4 linked regions of the Homo sapiens genome follow. The protein of the gene in region 3 interacts with the protein of the main gene of each other region in a pairwise test. Each region holds a gene or a part of one and is shown on either strand. Other genes may lie near its edges.

Region 1 (4,952 bases), on a different chromosome or scaffold from region 3:
AGGAGTTCGAGACCAGCCTGGATGACATAGTGAGACCATCTCTACAAAAAATACAAAAATTAGCCAGGCATGGTGGCACACTCCTGTGGTCCCAGCTACTTGGGAGGCTGAGGCAGGAGAATCACTTGAGCCTGGGAGGTGGAGGTTGCGGTGAGCCAAGATCACGCCACTGCACTCCAGCCTGGCTTGGGTGACAGAGTGACACCCTGCCTAAAAAAAAAAAAAAAAATTGGCCTCTATCAGTTCTTGCCGGAGCCTTTGACTTAGCCTTCCTAGAGACGATGTCTCTGTCTCACCTGCCTGCAGGTTTTCAGCAGCTCCCGTGGTAGTTCAGTGACAAGTTACAGCAGCCAGTGTGACTGGGGCCAGCGGGTTCTGGAGGGCTGTCCTGCCTTCAGGTAGCAGCAGTTCTGGGGTGATGGAGAGAGCCCATCAGCCCTCGCCATGCTGGTGGGGGGCCTGGGGCACAGTCCTGGGACCTCACAGGACTGGAGGGGCTGGTGAGTCGGTTACGTGGTGCTCTCGCTGTACAGAGTTAACGTGGAGCCACGTGCAGGTGCCAGGTGTTCTGGAGATTGACAAAAGGCTGATGCATTGAGACGGGAATTTTTCAAGGAGAAGAGGAAGTTTTAAAAAAAATTTTTAAGTTAAGAAAAAAAAAGAAAGAGGTGTCCGTTTTGGCCGGCCTCACGGTTCCTGGTGTCTTCTCAGGGTCTGCCCAGGGAGCCCCGTCACAGTACCCCGGCTACCAGCAAGGCCAAGGCCAGCAGTACGGAAGCTACCGAGCACCGCAGACAGCGCCGTCTGCCCAGCAGCAGCGGCCCTACGGCTATGAACAGGCAAGCTTTCTGGATGTTTCCAGATGTGCCCATCCGCCGCGCCTGTCGAGACATAATGAAGATTTCTCTTATGGCCATGAGGAATAATGAGCTGGAACTAACTGGCTTCCAGGGTTCCTTCCAGAACGTTAAGTCTCTGAGCCTGTAAGGTTTTGCAGAATTGCCTCTGTGTATACGCTCACCTCAGTCATCCAGCTGGCTTTTCATACCCTAAGCTCACCGTTAGATCTGCACGCCTGGTTCTCACATTCATTCACTCTGCCAGTGTTTGTCACGTACTGGGTACGCGTCCGGTCTCTGCTGAGTGCTTGGTGTGTGGCCGCGACACGAACCCTGCACTTTTAGAGCTTATGTCTCGCTACAGAGACATAAGGTGGTCCCACAGGGCCAGACTGTGCTGAGGACAGAGCGGGGGGCCCCAAATGGAGCCCGCCTTCCAGATGGGGGCGCAGGCGACCGCATTTGGCCCGTGTGGGCAATTCCAGGACGAAGACACAGCGGGGAGTGGCTGGCAGCCCCAGGCTCAGCCTAGGGAGGGGGAAGCCCTTTCTGCCCAGGAACAGTGAGCAGGGCTTTGAAGGAGCTGAGGAAAGAGCAGCTTGGAAGATGGAAGAGCGGGAGCTCTCGGGACAGTGAGGAGGCCGGTGTGGCGGGAGGTGACAGGGACAGGTGGGCGTAGGGGCCTCCATAAAGCAGACATCGCTTTCCCTCTGAGTGGGATGGGGCCCCTGGAGGAGGACAGGGTCTGTGTGGTGGGAGCACTGCAGGAGCGAGGGCCTCCTAGAGGAGAATGAGCCAGGCAAGGGAAGAGGGCGTGCCAAGGTCCTGAGGCACCAGGAGGTTTGTCCCAGTGAAGGCAGCCTGAAGGAGGCTCGGTGGCTGGAGCACAGGGCATATGAAGGAGAATGGTCTGGGACATTTTTTGGAGCCTCCTTTGAGAGAGTCCTTAGCAGGAAGTGGCTCTGTGTTGGTGACTCTGAGGTGGCTGGAGGTGTTAGGGACACTTTACACTGCCAGTGAAATTTCAAAGCACTACATCGCTCAAGTTTGTTTTTCTCAGGGAATTGGGTAGGTAAGAGGCCAAAGACTGTTTTTTAAATGCTTCTCGTCCTCCTTCTTCAAGAGGGCAAAGGGTCACCAGGTAGATGTAGAGAAGCCTAAAGACCATGTAACACAGTCTCCCTGCCAGGGCACCGTACTCGGCCATGCCTGGGAAGGGCACGCTGATGAGGCATTTACACAGATGTCAGGAGGGCTCTGGTGTGCTCTCAGGACACTGTGAGGCCACTGTAGCCGACGCAGGGGCCGCCTCTCCCCAGTGTGTGCTGGGCGCTGGTCAGCGGGGAGCAGGCCCCAGCTTGGCCCTCCAGGTTTGCACAGGAGTGTCATGCTGGAGTCTGGAAGGACAGCAGTCTGCATCCTGATGTTAAATTAGAATTATATGTGAATGATTCTGATGAGACGCCATACCTCCTTCATACAGTCCTGAAAATAACTTATTTGGATTTTGTGAAATAAGTGAATGTCCTAACTTAATTATAAGACTGAACCAGAGGACATATAACTTTATACCTACCTATGAAAAGACCGTGACCGGTCGTGGTGGCCCATGCCTGTAATCCCAGCACTTTGGGAGGCCAAGGCAGGAGGATCACTAGAGCCCAGGAGTTTGAGACCAGCCAGGGTAACATAGCAAGACCTGTCTCTACAAAAAATAAAGTAGTCAGGCATGGTGGTGCATGCCTGTAATCCCAGCTACTTGGAAGGCTGAGGCACGAGGATCCCTTGAGCCCAGGAGGTCGAGGCTGTAGTGAGTCGTGATTGCACCATTACACTCCAGCCTGGGCTACAGAGAGCGAGACTTTGTCTTAAAAAAAGGAAAAAGAAAGGCCAGGCGTGGGGGCTTACACCTGTAATTCCAGCACTTTGGGAGGCTGAGGCGGGTAGATCACCTGCAGTCAGGAGTTGGAGAGCAGCCTGGCCAACATGGTGAAACCCCATCTCTGCTAAAAATACAAAAATTAGCCGGGTGCCTGTAAGCCCAGCTATTGGGGAAGCTGAGGTGGGAGAATCGCTTGAACCGGGAAGGCAGAGGTGAGTTGAGATCACGCCACTGCACCCCAGCCTGGGCGACAGAGAGACTCCATCTCAAAAAAAAGAAAAAGACACAGAGCAATGGGGAAGATAGAGAATAGAATTTCACATCTGGGGGGAAATGTGTCCATCTAACTGCAAAATATTAAGATAGCCTTTAGTCAGCATCCAGTGTAGCTGGCCGTGGCGCTTTGGCACAGCACTGCCGGCGCTGGGCGTCTCCTAGGGGCCATTGTGCACACTGTGTTATGTTTGCAGCACCCCTGGCCTCCACCACGATGCCAGTAGCACCCCCATTGCCCAGTCTGACAATTTAAAATGACTCCAGACATTGTCAGATGCCCCAGGGGCAAAACTGTCTCCGTTTGAGAACCACTGGGCTACACTTAAACATGTGCTGAGGCGGCCAGGCGCTGTGGCTCACGCCTATAGCACTTTGGAAAGCAGAGGCGGGCGGGAGCAGATAGAGACGGAGGTTGCAGTGAGCTGAGATCGCGCCATTGTATTCCAGCATGGGCAACAAGAGCGAAACTCTGTCTCAAAAAAAAAAAAAAGGTGCTGAGGCATTGGGGCTGCCAGTGGTTTTATAGGGCTCCAGGGCTGCCATGCCTTCAGCTGAGCAGCTCTGGATTTGAGGCTTTCCGTCTTACCCAATGGTGCAGGAGCAGAAAGACATCAGAACAGACTCCCACTAACTAGAATCATCACAGGCAGCTCTGGGAATGAGAATGTGACGTGTTCGGTCAGGCTGGAACAGCTTTCCTCCCTCCCCCACTTCCTCGCTGGGGGCATTCGGGAAATCTGATCATTAACTAGCTGGGGACACATGGAGAACAGGCATGCAGATGATGATCCGTTGTCTTCCCCTGTGGCAGTCTCCCGAGTGGCTTTCACCACAGGTCCGATGCTCCGTTTTGCTGCCCAAGGAATTCTGCCTTGTGGCCTTGTGGGGCACAGGCTCTCTAGTTTCTCTTCTTCATGTTGTTTTTTGTTGTTGTTTTTGAGATGGAGTCTTGCTCTGTTGCCCAGGCTGGAGTGCAGTGGCACGATCTCGCTCACTGCAGCCTCTGCCTCTCGGGTTCTAGCAATTCTCCTGCCTCAGCATCCGGAGTAGCTGGGATTACAAGCACGTACTATCACACCTGGCTAATTTTTGTATTTTTAGTAGAGACAGGGTTTCGCCATGTTGGCCAGGGTGGTCTCGAGCTCCTGACCTCAGGTGATCCTTCCAAAGTGCTGGGACTGTAATCCTACAGGCATGAGCCACTGTGCCTGGCCTTTTTTTTTTTTTTTTTTTTTAAGACAGGGTCTCACTCTGTCGCCCAGGCTGGAGTGCATTGGCAGGAACATGGCTCACCGCAGCCTCAACCTCCGGGGCATGCGCCACAACATGTGGCTTATTCTTTTTTTTTTTTTTTTTTTTTTTGAGACAAGGTCTCACTCTGTCACCCACACTGGAATACAGTGGCATGATCTCGGTTCACTGCAACCTCCACCTCTCAGGCCCAGTGATTCTCCTGCCTCAGCCTCCCAAGTAGCTGGGATTACAGGCACGTGCCACTACCACCTGGCTAATTTTTTTTTTTGTATTTTTAGTAGAGATGGGGTTTCACCATGTTGGCCAGGCTGGTCTTGAACTCCTGACCTCAAATGATCCACCCACCTCGGCCTCCCAAAGTGCTGGGATTGCAGGCGTGAGCCACTGTGCCTGGCCGAGGCTAATTTTTTCTCTTTTTTTGTAGAGATGGGGTCTTGCTGTACTGCCCAGGCTGGTCTCAAACTCCTGGGCTCAAGCAGTCCTCCTGCCTCGGCCTCCCAAATTCAGATTTGTTTTTGAAACAGGGTCTCACCCAGACTAGAGTGCAGTGGTGCAATCACGGCTCACTGCAGCCTTGACCTCCTGGGCTCAAGCGATCCTCCCACCTCACCCTCCAAGTATCTGGGACTATTGGCACACGCCACCACACCCAGCTAATATTTGGATTTTTGTAGAGATGGAGTCTGGCCATGTTGCCCAGC
Region 2 (4,952 bases), on a different chromosome or scaffold from region 3:
GATGCAGAAGAGCAGAAACAGCAGCACAGTCTCCTGGGAGCCGCATCCCCGCGCACATTGAGTGAGGAACCGACCCCGGCGCTTCTGAGGCTGCGCGGAAGAGTCAGACAGCCGCTTCGGGCACAAACTACTCCAGGGGGCGTTGTGGCACCACGATTTGATTCAACTTGCATTACCCTGGCATGAACATCACAGGGACAAGGGAGTCTGGGGTCCAGCATGTACAGGCAGCTGCACACACGCCGACCGCCACACAGACACTGTCCCGGGAAACGCCTGCCACTGACTGGGAAGGTCTGTCACATGCAGACTAGCTCCTAAGTCCAGCGACTCTGGGGAGGGGCCAAGACGTGGCAGGAGCCCACCCTGACGGCCTCACTCGCTGTCTGTGCACACGTGCACGAAGCTGGAGGGAGAAGGGCTGCATCTCCATAAACACCGAACCCCACATCCAGTAAAGCCTCTCCTACGGACAAGAAGCTCCTGAGCTGGTGAGGATCGGCGCGGCCCGGGGCGTTCTCTAGGTAGTGGGAGTAGCAGAACCACAGAAGCCAGCAGCCAAGCCCGTGCGGGGGTGAAAGAGGGACGGGGAGCCCAGTGCCACCCGTGGAGGCGCTCCTGACAGGGGCTCCACCCCAAGGTCATGGTGGGGCTGCGGTCGTCCCAGACTCCAGGACCAGAAGGGGCTCTGGTTTGAATCCAAGCTCACGGCCTTCAGGGGCTGCAGAGAATTCTAAGCCTGAGGGCTCACAACTGCACCTGCTGAACTCCCTTTACACCAAAAAGGGCCAGGGAGGGGACAGTTTGGCAGGGAGGTGGCGTGGTGGGGTGGAGGCTGGAGTCGGCACGGTTTGTTTAATTCTAGTTCTCTTGCTGTGAACGAATCATGCCACCTCTGAGCCTCGGTTCCCTGATCTCAAACGGGAAAGACGAATATGTAACCAAGCTGGAATTGCTGTGATGGCATGGCTGCTGTGACCTGGAGGGAAACTGCTGGCAAGACCACACCCCCCAACCCCCATCCACACACCCCACACCTCCACACCTCCTCACACCCTACACCTCCATACACCCCACACAGCTCCACACACCCCACACCTCCACACACCTCACACCTCCACACACCACACACAGCTCCACACACCCACCTCCACACACCTCACACCCCACCTCACACACCCCACACTTCTACACACCCTACACACCTCACCCCTCCACACACCTCACACCTCCATACACCCCACACACCCACCTCCATACACCCCACACCTCCACACACACTCCACACACACTCCACACCTCCATACACCCCACACCTCCACACACCCCACACACCCTCACCTCCACACACCCCACACACCCTCACCTCTACACACCCCACACACCCCACACCTCCACACACCCATACAGACTGCCCGAACCCAAATCCTGTCACGGTGGCGAGAACGCCAGACCAGAACGATGGCCCCCAGCTCAGGGTCGCCCTCCGTGTGGCTGGAATGCCCTACTCAGGCTGAGGGGGGCCTTTTCCTTTGGAAAAGCCTGCCAACTCCAGAGCCATCTCCGGGTGAGCCTGGGCCTCGCCTCTGCCCAGCCCTGGTGAGGCCGGGCACAGCATCCCACCCCCGCCCACCCACCCCAGCCCTTGCAGCTTTTCAGAGCAGAAGGGAGCTTTCCATTAGCCACGTGTCTCAGAAGGGGCCAGCCAGGCGACCCACCAAGAGCGTGTCCTTCCCAGGTAAACCCGAGTGCCACAGAAGGTTGCCAGCCCGGGCTGCCAACGAGTCTGGCTCCTCCCCCAGGGCAGGGGAAGGGCAGGGCGTGCAGAGCCCTGGGCTGGGGGCAGGAGCTCGAGGCCCACCCCTCCCTGAGCCCACCTCCTCGCCTGTGGGCTGGAGGTCGGACACGATCGGAAGCCACCCTTGCCGCATGCCAGGCGCTTCGAGTATTTCCTAGACCTCGCCAAGCCCCTCTGCTAAGCGGAGGCTCCGAGAGGACCTGCTGAGATGACACAGACACTGAGGGCCAGCAGGGCCACGGCCACCCTCCCTGCCCGCCACCACGCCCACTCAAGAGCGTCTGGACTGGCCACAGTCCACACTTCCACAGCCCAGGGGTGGAAGCAGGGCCAGCACCCGCTTGGGAAAGGTTCAGAACTTGACCATCACAGGCTGCTCCGAGCAGGTCTTGCTGTAACTCCCTGGACCTGCTGTGGTCCTAAAGCCCCTTCTTCTGTGGCCATGCAACGAGCAGGGCAGGGGTCACCGAGGGACCCCTCTCAAGCAGCCCACGTGGCGGCCACACAGGGCTGGGGGTCAGGGCAGCAGACCTGGGCAGCAGACCTGGGCCGCTGTCTGGGGGCCTTTCCCGAGACACGTGCTGGCCCTGGCGGAAGGGACGGTTGTCCCCGCATCCTGAGCCGGGCGCCGCCTCTCACCCACAACTTGTTGCTTACAAAAATCACAAAGTCCTCAAGAACAAGCCCCCTCATGCCAGCTGTGACTGGAGGAGAGGAGCTGAACTCTGGGGCTGCGGTGGAAAGTCAGCTTCCAGGGGCCGCCTCTGCTGCCGAGCGGGGGCAGGGAGAAGGGCCACTGAGCCCCTTCCCCCAGGAGTCAGGGAGCAGAGAGAAGGAAGAGGGTCTGTGCAGAAGAGTCAGAGGCAGCGAGGCCGGAAGGAGGCTTAGCAAAGGCCAGAGAGCTTTTGGGAACAAGAACTACCTTTCACGGACATTTTCCTCAATCTCTTAACTGAGCCGTGACTTTTGGAAGCCAGACGGGAGGCGGGAGGGCTGGTGGGCTGGGGTGCGCGGCTAAGACACACAGGGAGTCCAATGGCTGACATCAGAACACTCGTCATGCCTGCACGGGTGTGAGAGCAGACACGCAGAGAGGGAGAGACATTAGAAGACTCCTTCGGCATGTGACGCCAACAAACCCTGCTCAGGCCAAGGATGTGACACCATCAATGGCCACGGGGACGCACAGGTCTCCCTGGGGACTACCCAGGCCAGGAATCAGAGGGTGGGGCAGCCTGGCTCATGGTAGCCCTGGCCCCAGAGCCCACAGGTTTCTATAGGAGCAACAGACAAGCCCGTGCCCTCAGTGTGCAGGTGGGCACCGGGGCAGGACCCGTGACTTCAGGAGAGCAGAGGGCGGAGGACGCCACTCCAGGAAGCCGCCCGGGGCACGGGGTCTCCTGGGTGGGGCTGGCTCCAAGGGCTCAGCTTCCCCAGGAGGCCCTGGGCCCTCCTGGCTTGGAGTTACTAGGCCTCCAGCCTCCACTGGGTGCTGTGTGTGCTCCATGCCCCTCCTGGCTGATCTGGGTGCCAGGGCCTTCAGCGACAGCGCTGGGGTAGGCGGGCAGGAACGTGGCCCCTGGGCCTGCTCCCACACTGCAGCATCCCCATACTGTGAGGGCTGGGCTGCAGCAAGGCCCCAGGCTGTGGCTCTGGCGCCCTCGGGCAAGGGTGGGCCTGTGGCCAGCAGCTATGCTGGGACAGACCGGCCACTCTTTCCAGAGCTCACCACTGCCGGATGCCTGCAGGGAACCCCACACTTGCCCTGGGGGACTCTCCTCTGACACTGCTTCCTTCGTGCTCCCTGATGACCCAGCGCTTCCTGGGACACAGCGTGTCCTGCTGGACGAACCCGTTCCTGCCACACCCTCGGCCTACCCCACTTTCCATAGTGCCAGCTCCCCGGTCCTCCCTGTCATCGGTCAGTTAGGTCAAAAGCACCTCCTCTCCAGAGAAAGGGGAAGCCTAGAGCTTCTTAGCCATCTCTTAAGGTGGCTTCCAGGGTCTGCAGAACCTGGCTCAGGAGCTGGGCACAGCCGGCTGCCGGGGGAGTTGGTAGAAATCCCAGTCCTCCTGGACCCCACTCCCCATCCAGGAACAGATGGCGTGACTCAGGGGTGAAGGGCGGCCAGGCCAGCCACTGCGCCCCCACTAGAAGAACAAAGCTTCTCAACCCGGCACATGTGCCTGGCTGTGGGGACAGAAGCGGAGACCAGCCACCAGCCTGGGCAGCAGAGCCGAGGTGGGCAGGGTGAGTTGCAGTGGCCCTCAGCAGGAGACACCAAAGCGTGCATCAGAGGACAGAGGTTTGAGCCCGGGAGCTCAATGCCCCCAACATCCCAAGCTTGTTCCTGGGCTCAAATGCGGTTCCTGTGGGAACTGAATGTCGGGTGGAGAGAAGGACAAGCGGGCGCGGGTGGCAGAGAGATGAGAGAGGACAAGGACAGGTGCAGTTTTCCTCAAGAGAATCTGGTGCCTCTGCGCTGCCCACGTCGTCTGGGAGGACCAAAGGCCAGGACACGTCTCCCTACCCAGGGTTCTCCGGCAACACTGCCTCAGCGGGCAGGCCTTCCCTGAACACTGCCTGACGGGGCCTGTCCCTCCAAGCCTCCCGCCCCACCCTGCTGGACTCCTGCTTTGCACTCCCCTCTGTTTCTATGGACTGTCTTCCCTCAGCACGAGTTCCACGAGGTCCCACCCGTAGCTGCATCTCCAGCACCCCGCTGGGGCAGTGCCTGATCCCTGGGAAGCCTGCAGCCCTCTGTGTTTGCTGAGGAATGAAGACATCCTTGGGCCACCACCAGCCCCCAGGAGGCCGCATGAGTGACACACGTGTCCTTTTCAATGCAGGACCCACTCCCCTGAATTCAAGTCACAAACACACAAGTTTCAACCCAGAAGCCTGGAGAGGAGGAGGGCTAGGGACAGCCCCCCAAACTCCTGACAGCCCCCAAAACACCTGAATAACTCGGAGGGCCACAGCCTTTTTCTCCACCCATCTGGGAGGATTCCCGCTGTCAGAGCCCTGAAGAGTGAAGCCCCCACTCACTGATTCTCACTTCCAATTTGCAGACACCCCTCCTTCTGACACCCAGGGCCAGGGCTGAGATCCAAGCCTCTCCTCTGTGCGCTCTGACCTCCCCAGCCTGGGTTC
Region 3 (4,952 bases):
TCAAGTGATCCATCCACTTTGGCCTCCCAAAGTGCTGGGATTACAGGTGTGAGTCACTGTGCCCGGCCTACTCTTATTCTTTACTTTTGAATATATTTGAAATTTCCCATAACAAAAGTTAATTTTTTATTTTTTAGATATCTATAAGATGATGTCTGCCCAAGTTCAAAGTACAATGAAATTCAGAATATAGGTCAAGAGCAGTGTTTATATAACACTTTAGGAACTACGATTATGTCAAAATTAATCTGGTTACAAAAGACCACATACTGCATGATTCCATTTATATGAAATGTCCAGAACAGGCAAATCTCTAGAGAAAGAAAATAGATTAGTGGTTGCCTGGGGTTGGGGGAAGAAAAGGAGGAGATAAAGAGTGATTTGCCAACGGGTACAAAGTTTCTGATGAAAACACCTTTTTTTTTTTTTTTTTTTTGAGACAGGGTCTCCCTCTGTTGCCCAGGCTGAAGTGCAGCGGCACAATCTCAGCTCACTGCAACCTCTGCCTCCTGGGTTCAAACGATTCTCCCACCTCAAATGAAAACACTTTAAAACTGATTGTGGTGATGGATGGAGAACTCTGATATAATAAAACCCATTGTATTGTACACTTTAAATAGGTGAAATGTATGGCATGTAAATTACATATCAATAAAGCATTTTTTTTTTTTTAGCATTTTTTGAAAAACTAATTTGGTGGCCGGGCGTGGTGGCTCACACCTGTAATCCCAGCACTTTGGGAAGCTGAGGCAGGTGGATTGCTTGAGCTCAGAGTTTGAGACCAGCCTGGGCAACATGGTGAAACCCCGTCTCTACAAAATATACAAAAATTAGTCAGGTGTGGTGGCACATGCCTGTAATCCCAGCTACTTGGGAGGCTGAAGCACGAGAATCGCTTGAACCTGGGAGACGGAGGTTGCAGTGAGCTGAGGTTGTGCCACTGCACTCCAGCCTGGGCAACAGAGCGAGACTCTGTCTCAAAAAATAAATAAATTTTAAAAAGTAATGTAATTTGGTGCTTAATAAATGTTTTACAATAAGATAAAGAACTCTCAAATTATATTTTTTCTTTTTTTTTTTTGAGACAGTTTCACTCTTGTCACCCAGGCTGGAGTGCAGTGGCGTGATCTCGGCTCACTGCAACCTCCATCTCCTGGGTTCAAGCAATTCTCCTGCCTCAGCCTCCCGAGTAGCTGGGATTACAGGCACGTGCCACAATACCCGGCTAATTTTTTTTGTATTTTTAGTAGAGATGGGGTTTCACCACGTTGGTCAGGCTGGTCTCGAACTCCTGACCTCAGGTGATCCACCCGACTCAGCCTCCCAAAGTGCTGGGATTACAGGCGTGAGCCACCGCACCTGGCCAAATTATATTTTTTCATATGTGAATCCTAATTGGCATTTTCCTTCATCTACTTCCCAATTAATTCTATCTGATCACTTCTTTATTCTATGTCATATCACTCCTCTTTTTTTTGAGACAGGGTCTTGTTCTGTTGCTCAGGCTGGAGCGCAGTAGCATGACCACAGCTCGCCGCAGCCTCAACCTCCCAGTCTCAGTTGATCCTCCTGCTTCAGCCTCCCAAGTAGCTGGACTACTGACCCGCACCACCACACCCAGCTAATTTTCTCAGTCTTTGTAGAGATGGGGATCTTACTGTGTTGCCCAGCTGGTCTTGAACTCCTGGGCTCAAGTGATCCTCACACCTTGGCTTCTCAAAGTGCTGGTATTACAGGTGTGAGCCACTGCACCCAGCCTGTCATGTCACTTCTTAAGGACTCAGTTTTTAAACCAAGGACTCTAACAAAAATAAAGACTAGTTTGATTTTACTTTTTTTTTTTAAGAGATAGGGTCTCACTGTGTTGCCCAGGCTGGAGGAGAGTGGCTGTTCACAGGCATGTGCTCATAGCACACTACAGCCTGAAGCTCCTGGCCTCAAGTGATTTTCCTGCCTCAGTCTCCCAAGTAGCTGGGGTTACAGGCATGAGTCATCATGCTCCGCTTGATTTGATAAATATATTGAGAATAGATTGACTACTAGATAGATTTTTAAAAATTTGTTTCTTTACACTACTAGACAAAAAAATTAATGGTCAGTAAGTACTCTTTCATACTGTTTTCAGAAGTATAGTCTTCTTCAAAGCTAACTGGCCAGTATGTATCAATATTTTTTTTAAGTTTATAACATTCAAATTAGTCAGGTATGGTAGTGCATGCCTGTAGTCCCAACTACTCAAGGGGCTGAGGTGGGAGGATCTCTTGAGCCAAGAAGGTCAAGGCTACAGTGAGCTGTGATCATGTCACTGCACTCCAGCCAAGACAACAACATGAGACCCTGTCTCAAAAATGAAAAAAAAAAAGTTTATAACATTCAACTAGTTATTAGTCTTCTAAAAGGTTATTCTAAGGAGCTCATGAGAAACGTGACCACTTAAGTGCAAAGATATTCAACACAGTACTATGTTATTAAAAATTACAAGTAAGCCAGGAGCGGTGGCTCACCTTATAGTCACTTCTCACTTTATAGTCCCAGCACTTTGGGAGGCTGACGCAGGCGGATTACTTGAGGCCAGGAGTTCGAGACCAGCCTGGCCAACATGGTGAAACCCCTTCTCTACTAAAAATACAAAAAATTAGCCAGGCTTGGTGGCACACGCCTATGGTTCCAGCTACTCGGGAGGCTGAGGCAGAAGAATTGCTTGAACCCGGGAGGCGGAGGTTGCAGTGAGCCAAGGTTGTGCAACTGTACTCCAGCCTGGATGACAGAGCGAGACTGCCTCAAAAAAAAAAAAAAAATTGTAAGTAACCTAAATATTCAACAATAGTAGGATGGTTGAAGAAATAAATTACAGTACATTCATATGAAACACTTTATAACCATTAAAGGTAGTTTTTACAGCAAATGCTCACAGATATAACATGAGAAAGTCATGATACTAAACTGTATACATATAGTGTAAAGGATACTGCTTTTTGCAAAAACAAAACTATATAGTACATGTGTATAAAAATGAAAACCAAAGGTAAGCTTATGAAAACATTAAGAGTGAGATTATCAGTGATTTTTGATACTTTATGTATTTTCAAACTACCTGCAATGAAAAATGTTGCTATTTTGGGTAATACAAATTTTTTTTTGTTTTTGGTTTTGAGATAGAGTCTTGGTCTGTCGCCCAGGTTAGAATGCAGTGGCACAATCTCAGTTCACTGCAACCTCCACCTCCTGGGTTCAAGCAATTCTCCTGCCATCAGCCCCCCAAATAGCTGGGATTACAGGTGCCCGCCACCATGCCCAGCTAATTTTTTGTATTTATAATAGAGACAGGGTCTCACCATGTTGGCCAGGCTGGTCTTGAACTCCTGACCTTGGGTGATCCACCTGCCTCGGCCTCCCAAAATGCTGGGATCACAGGTGTGGGCCACCGTGCCCAGCTAATTTTTTTGTGTGTATTTTTAGTAGAGACGGGGTTTCATCATGTTAGCCAGGATGGTCTCAATCTCCTGACCTCATGATCCGCCCACCTCCGCCTCCCAAGTGCTGGGATTACAGGCATGAGCCACCATGCCTGGCCTTATTATTCTTAAAATAATTACTTGTGGCCTGGCACGGTGGCTCACGTGTATAATCCCTGCACTTTGGGAGGCCAAGGCGAGTGGATCACTTGAGGTTAGGGCTTCGAGATGAGCCTGGCCAACATGGTGAACCCCATCTCTACTAAAAATATAAAAATTAGCTGGGCGTGGTGGCACACACCTGTAATCCCAGCTACTCGGGAGGCTGAGGCAGGAGAAGTGGCCTGAACCCAGGAGGCAGAGGTTGCAGTGAGCTGAGATCACGTCACTGCACTCCAGCCTGGGCAACAGAGCGAGACTCTGTCTCAAAAAAAAAAAAAAATTATTTGTGTATTCTTGCTTCCTTAGATAGAAAGCTCACTGAGGCAGACTCCAGCTTTCCCTTATTCTTTAGATTCTTCCCATATCAACCAGTCCTATCAAAGACCACCTTAGTAAATGTTATTGTAAAATCTACATTAGGATACGGATCCTCAGAAATGTATCTTAATATCAAGTCTTAGGACAGGCACGGTGGCTCACACCTTTAATCCCAGCACTTTGGGAGGCTGAGGCGGGGGGATCACCTGAGGTCAGGAGTTCAAGACCAGCCTGGCCAACGTGGTGAAACCCTGTCTCTACTAAAAATACAAGAGTTAGCCAGGTGTGGTGGTGGACGCCTGTAATCTCAGCTACTTGGGAGGCTGAGGCAGGAGAATCACTTGAACCCGGGAGGCGGAGGTTGCAGTGAGCTGAGATCACGCCATTGCACTCCAGCCTGGGCAACAGGAGTGCAACTCTTCTCAGAAAAAAAAAAAAATGAATAAAAAATCAAATCTTATATTTATGTGGTATTCCCCTCAAAGGCTCTGGAGAACACAGTAAGTACTCAATAAACACTTACTCAACTGTAATTATATGTTGGTTGTCAGCATGCAAGGAACCTGCACCATTACAGAAACTGTCACAGCCAAGCTAAGGAAAAGTTCTCCAAGTTCAATTTCACAGAATCATACATGCCATTTTAGAGTTAGAACATATCTTTTTTTAAAAAAAAAGCCAGTTCTCTCATTTTACAGGTAAAACCTTGGCCCTGGGATATTAAGTGACTTGTCCAAATTTATACTGAGAGTTAATGTTGGAATCAGGAAAATAGTTCAGGCTTTGGAGTTAAGTGCATCAATGTAAGTTACAAACATTCTTCATGTCTTCAATTTCCAGAACTGACTATGATGTGCACTTCAGGTGCAGGCTCTACTCTTCACTCTGTATTATCTCAGTCAGTGGCTACCCTGTAGGCATATAGTACATTAAAAATTCCTTGAACACCAAACTTGACTTTTCCTAAAGGGATCAGGAAGGTCTTGATATTGCTGGTTCAGTATGATCTGGAAATGT
Region 4 (4,952 bases), on a different chromosome or scaffold from region 3:
TGAACGAGCTGATCTCTCTGGATCAGTGCTTGACGTAAGTATCATTTTAGGCTACAAGAGAAAATTAAATGTTTAGTCTATTGAACAGTCTCAAAGAGCCTTTGAGACAGGAATTATAACTATCTTTTACTGGAGCTTTTACTTGAAAACAGATAATTTATTATGTTGATATAAGACTAAAGGTCTGAAAGTGAAATGAATTTGGTTTTACAGGTTTGATATCCTTTATTAAACATAGACTTGAAAGGTTTAGTAACTAATAAGAAATTAAATCTTGGAATTAGTTCTTGATCTCCTCAATATACTGTACTTTATTTATCAGGACTCATATTTTCAGCTAATTGTAAAGGTAAAGCTGAAAGGAACCTTGAAATCTATTCAGCCTCATTTCTGGAATGGGAAAATGTTACTGCTCAAGAAGTATTTGACAGATATTTTGAAATAAACATGGTATGCATCAGTTTGTGGAAGTTAACATCTCAGTGGCGTTTTCCCTCTCTCTACATATATGTGTATATTTATATATATGTATATGTATGTATTTATAACAGTTATCTGTGTTTATTTGAAGTTAGAGGATATATGCAGACCAACAATGAAATCTATTAATTTTTAACAACTTTAAGTTCCTTACCACCAAGGCCCGTGTCTGTATGTCTTTTGAATTAATACCATCTTGCTTTTGGTAGTCATTTATTGAATTACTCTAATTTGGGTTTTACTCATTAGCTGCAGCTTATTTTTCCATGAAGCTGTGTATCAGGGCGAGTAACAAAATCTACCAAATATGCATTTTAGTTACTTTCACTGTCCTTTATTCTGTCTTATCATGAAGGGTCAGGTTAGTAGCAAAACAGGAAAAAGACTAACATCAAAAAAACGTTTGAAGGACCTAATCTTTAAATAGTGAAATGTCGAGAGGCATCTTTGTTTGTGTTAAGGACAAAAAAAAAAAGATGTTTGTCAAAAACGCTTTGAGATAAATGAACATAATTTAAAACTCTTGGCTGCGTGTGGTGGATCATGCCTGTAAACCCAGCACTTTGGGGAGCAGAGGCAGGCAGATCACTTGAGGTCAAGACCATCTTAGCCAACATGGCGAAACCCCGTCTCTACTAAAAATACAAAAATTAGCCAGGCGTGGTGGTGCATGCCTGTAATTCAAGCTACTCAGGAGGCTGAGGCACGAGAATCACTTGAACTTGGGAGGCAGAGATTGCAGTGAGCTGAGACAGCACCACTGCACTCCATCCTGGGTGACGGAGTGAGACTTTGTCTCAAACAAAACAAAACAAAAAAATAAAGTCTTAAAACATATATTTTCTACCATTTTACTCTCTGCCCTGCATTATGCATTGTGATGTGCCTGCTCAGGGTTAATAATGTTTAGCCATGGTTGGTGCAGAAAGACCCAGCCAGCATCTTGTTAGTGTTTTCTAGCTAAATAATGCCTTTAAATGCTGGCTTTTGTATTCTGACCTCTGACTTGAGGGCAGTAGTAGCATCTTAGAATATCAAGAATTTCACTTAGAACATCAAGATTCCTACAGTAATAAGAAAATCCATACCCCTAACAAGTCTATGCCTTCCTTACCCATACATTTTGACTGTTTCATTGTCATGCATAGGTATGTTTATAAAAATAGAGATAGAGGTGTCAGAGTTCTGACTCACCCAACTTCTTTATCTAAACCGTTATGTTTCATGTAAAATGAGCATGCTATTGTTAATTTGCATTTATTTTTTAAAAAACAGTTCTTTAAAAAAATTTTTCTTTCAAATGTTCCCAGTTCTTACTGTATTTAATTAGAAAAGCCTTTATTGTAAACAGAAAATAAAATTGAGTATGAGTGTTTTGAGTTGAGCCTTTCCCTCTTTTCTATTTTTTTTCTTTTACTGTTTGAGCTAATTTGAACAAAATTATGAACCTTACAACCAGGACTTTTCTCTTTTCTTTGCAGTGTGCGAATCTCCAGGGAGTCAAGATGCTCTGTTCTAATGCAGAAGGAGCATCCCTGAAACTGTGTAATTTTGAGGATCCTTCTGGTCTTAAAGCCAATTTAGAAGGTGAGATCCTTTCTGTAAATACCTATTCTACGAAGGAAGCAGACTGTAAAGGAAAAAAGCCCTGGAAAATAATTGTTAAGGGTGAAACAGGATAGCTGTAGGGGATAGGTTTCTTCTGTCATCATATTTGGAGAACTTCCAAAGTGGTAAGAAACCTCCATTTGGTTTCAGTCAAATGCTAATCAAAATTGAGGACTCAGAAAAAATAAAACCTCAAATATTTAATAAGGTTTTAGTTGGAAAATTAAATATCAACATCTTAAACTTTCAAATGGAATAAAATATTCTTACACTGACCAAAAGGAAAAATTTCATTTGCATAAAGCCAGGGAGTTTTTAAAAATCATTTTTAGATTTAATGTATTGTTTCTTAATTTGTTACTATCTGTGACTGATCACTTTGTTTACTTGTATATTTAGGAGACTACTTCACTCCCTTATCATAAACCTGTAGAGGCATATTATGAAAGTGCTAACTATCATAAGACAGAACTAAATTTCTTCCCTCAAAAGTATTGTGAAAGCATTCTTTCATCAGTAAACTGTTTATATATATAAGTTCGTTGAGAGACAAGATTTTAGATTAATTTCCAAAAGTTAAAAGAGGCCTCCATTAAGTCATCTTGCAGTTCTGTTGAAGGTAGATAACTATATTTTTAAGTTAAACTACTCCCAGAATGTGTTCACTGTAGGTGCTAATCTGAAAGGTGTGGATATGGAAGGAAGTCAGATGACAGGAATTAACCTGAGAGTGGCTACCTTAAAAAATGCAAAGTTGAAGAACTGTAACCTCAGAGGAGCAACTCTGGCAGGAACTGATTTAGAGGTGAGTTCACCAACACTTTAAGAATTTTTATTACTCTAGACTTACTAAGCATCTCATGCAAAATTTATTGAAATCAAAACAAAGTAGTTGGCTGGTAAAACTGGATTGGAAGACTCATCTGACATTCAGTCTAAGTTGATTTCATTTCTCTCCTTTTCCTTGAGTTTTTCTCAAGTAAATAAGTTTGATAGATGTGTTATCTAATGTATTGCATTTTCCATAAAATTTAATTCCGAATAGAATTAAATGGGCTAGATTACTTCTTAAACTACTTGAGAAATTTAAATGATATCCAGGTTTGAAATCAGGTTCAGGAAAAGTCTATTTGAAATTGGAACCATATGTTTTTTGGTTTTCAGCTTGAGATTATAATTTTGCCTGGTCATCTTTTTCAAAGAATTATATTTGTATGTCTTCTTAATTTGCCAGTTTAGCTAGCAGACTTGATAGCTGTTGATAGGTCTATATCAGCACTATCCAATAGCACTTTGTGCAGGAGGGACATGTTCTATATCTGTGCTGTTCAGTATAGTAGCTACCACCCATATATAGCTATTGAGCGCTTGAGATTTGGCTAGTGCAAATGAGAAATTGATTTTTAAATTTTATTTAATTTTAATTCATTTAAATTTAAGTAGCCACATGTGGCTGGTAGCTATGAAATCTGGTATAAATTGGATAGCAGAGAACGGTATGTCAAAATTTAGCTTGCTGTTAATGTTTTTTCATAATATTTTTGCCTAGATATCTTGATAGCTCTCGGTAGCAGAGTAGCAGGCCCCTTTCAACTTCAAGGCAAAAAGAATTGGCCTAAGTATAATCCTATCACGAGCACAATTATTTATTGTTTGTTACATTACTTTCACCTAAGATTATATTTTTTTCCTTGGTTTTAGTACTGTGTACTCAGTGTGGCCTAGCAGCAAAAGCCTCCCTCTCTCTGATTGCAAAGACTGATCAGGTTGACTATTGAGGGGAGAGCTGCTGACATTTGTTCTCCTAACAGGTTACGTTTAGTCACCCTTCTCTCTAACCATTGTCCCCTATCATATCCAGGGACTTAAGTGGAATCTCTATCTTATTGCTCCGTGATCTCAAGACAAATTAAGAAATAGCTTCAAATTGCGGTGGTTACACTGTTCTGTACATCTGTCAAACTCACTGTATTATATACGTACCTTTGGGGCTTTAAAAAGAAGGGCAGTTCCTTGCTATAAAAATACTAGGGCTAGGGAATGGAAAAATCTATTACACAATTTGATTAAGTAAAATCTTTTCAGATTAAAAAAAAAGTCTTCCCCCCATCTCATTCCTTTTGTTGTTGTTGTTCTTGGATCATAGTAAAATTGTTTTGATAATATTTATTACTTTGGGGCCAGGCGCAGTGGCTCATGCCTGTAACCCCAGCATTTTGGGAGGCCAAGGTGGGCGAATCACTTGAGGTTAGGAGTTTGAGACCAGCCTGGCCAACATGGTGAAACCCCGTCTCTACTAAAAATAGAAAAAATTAGCCAGGCGTGGTGGTGAGTGCCTGTAACCCCAGCTACTCTGGAAGCTGAGGCAGGAGAATAGCTCGAATCCTGGAGGTGGAGGTTGCAGTGAGCCGAGATTGCACTCCAGCCTGGGCAACAAGAGCAAAACTCCGTTTCAAAAAAAAAATTGTGTGTGTGTGTGTGTGTGTGTGTGTGTGTGTGTATTTATTATGTTGGAATCCATTCTGTATTTTAAATCAGTGGTCCCCAACCTTTTTGGCACCAGGGACTGGTTTTGTGGAAGAAAATATTTTCACAGATCAGAGTCGGGGGCTGGTTTTGGGATGATTCAAGCGCGTTACATTTATTGTGCACTTTATTTCTACTAGTATTACATTGTAATACATAATGAAATAATTATATAACTCACCATAATGTAGAATCAGTGGGAGCCCTGAGTTTGTTTTCTTGCAACTAGACAGTCCCATCTGGGGGTGTTGGAGACAGTGACAGATCATCAGGCATTAGATTCTCATGAGGAGTACCCCACCTAGATCCCTCACATGTGCAGTTCACAATAGGGTTCA

What was found. Proteins that work in one complex are often made in the same cells at the same time.
Region 1: the proteins of USP54 (region 3) and SS18L1 interact in binary tests that used the Homo sapiens proteins (3 or more experiments, as listed by UniProt).
Region 2: the proteins of USP54 (region 3) and DTX2 interact in binary tests that used the Homo sapiens proteins (3 or more experiments, as listed by UniProt).
Region 4: the proteins of USP54 (region 3) and KCTD9 interact in binary tests that used the Homo sapiens proteins (3 or more experiments, as listed by UniProt).

The regions. Positions count from the first base shown.
Region 1 is NC_000020.11:62,173,806-62,178,757, forward strand, and holds part of SS18L1 (calcium-responsive transactivator), read left to right. Parts: intron 1-711; coding exon 712-839; coding exon of another isoform or gene 840-926; exon of another isoform or gene 927-2,513; intron 2,514-4,952. UniProt on the Homo sapiens protein: Transcriptional activator which is required for calcium-dependent dendritic growth and branching in cortical neurons. Recruits CREB-binding protein (CREBBP) to nuclear bodies.
Region 2 is NC_000007.14:76,495,246-76,500,197, reverse strand, and holds part of DTX2 (probable E3 ubiquitin-protein ligase DTX2), read right to left. Parts: intron 2,862-4,952; coding exon 2,721-2,861; intron 1-2,720. UniProt on the Homo sapiens protein: Regulator of Notch signaling, a signaling pathway involved in cell-cell communications that regulates a broad spectrum of cell-fate determinations.
Region 3 is NC_000010.11:73,510,681-73,515,632, forward strand, and holds part of USP54 (ubiquitin carboxyl-terminal hydrolase 54), read right to left. Parts: intron 1-4,952.
Region 4 is NC_000008.11:25,430,445-25,435,396, reverse strand, and holds part of KCTD9 (BTB/POZ domain-containing protein KCTD9), read left to right. Parts: coding exon 1-34; intron 35-1,961; coding exon 1,962-2,067; intron 2,068-2,743; coding exon of another isoform or gene 2,744-2,759; coding exon 2,760-2,893; intron 2,894-4,952. UniProt on the Homo sapiens protein: Substrate-specific adapter of a BCR (BTB-CUL3-RBX1) E3 ubiquitin-protein ligase complex, which mediates the ubiquitination of target proteins, leading to their degradation by the proteasome.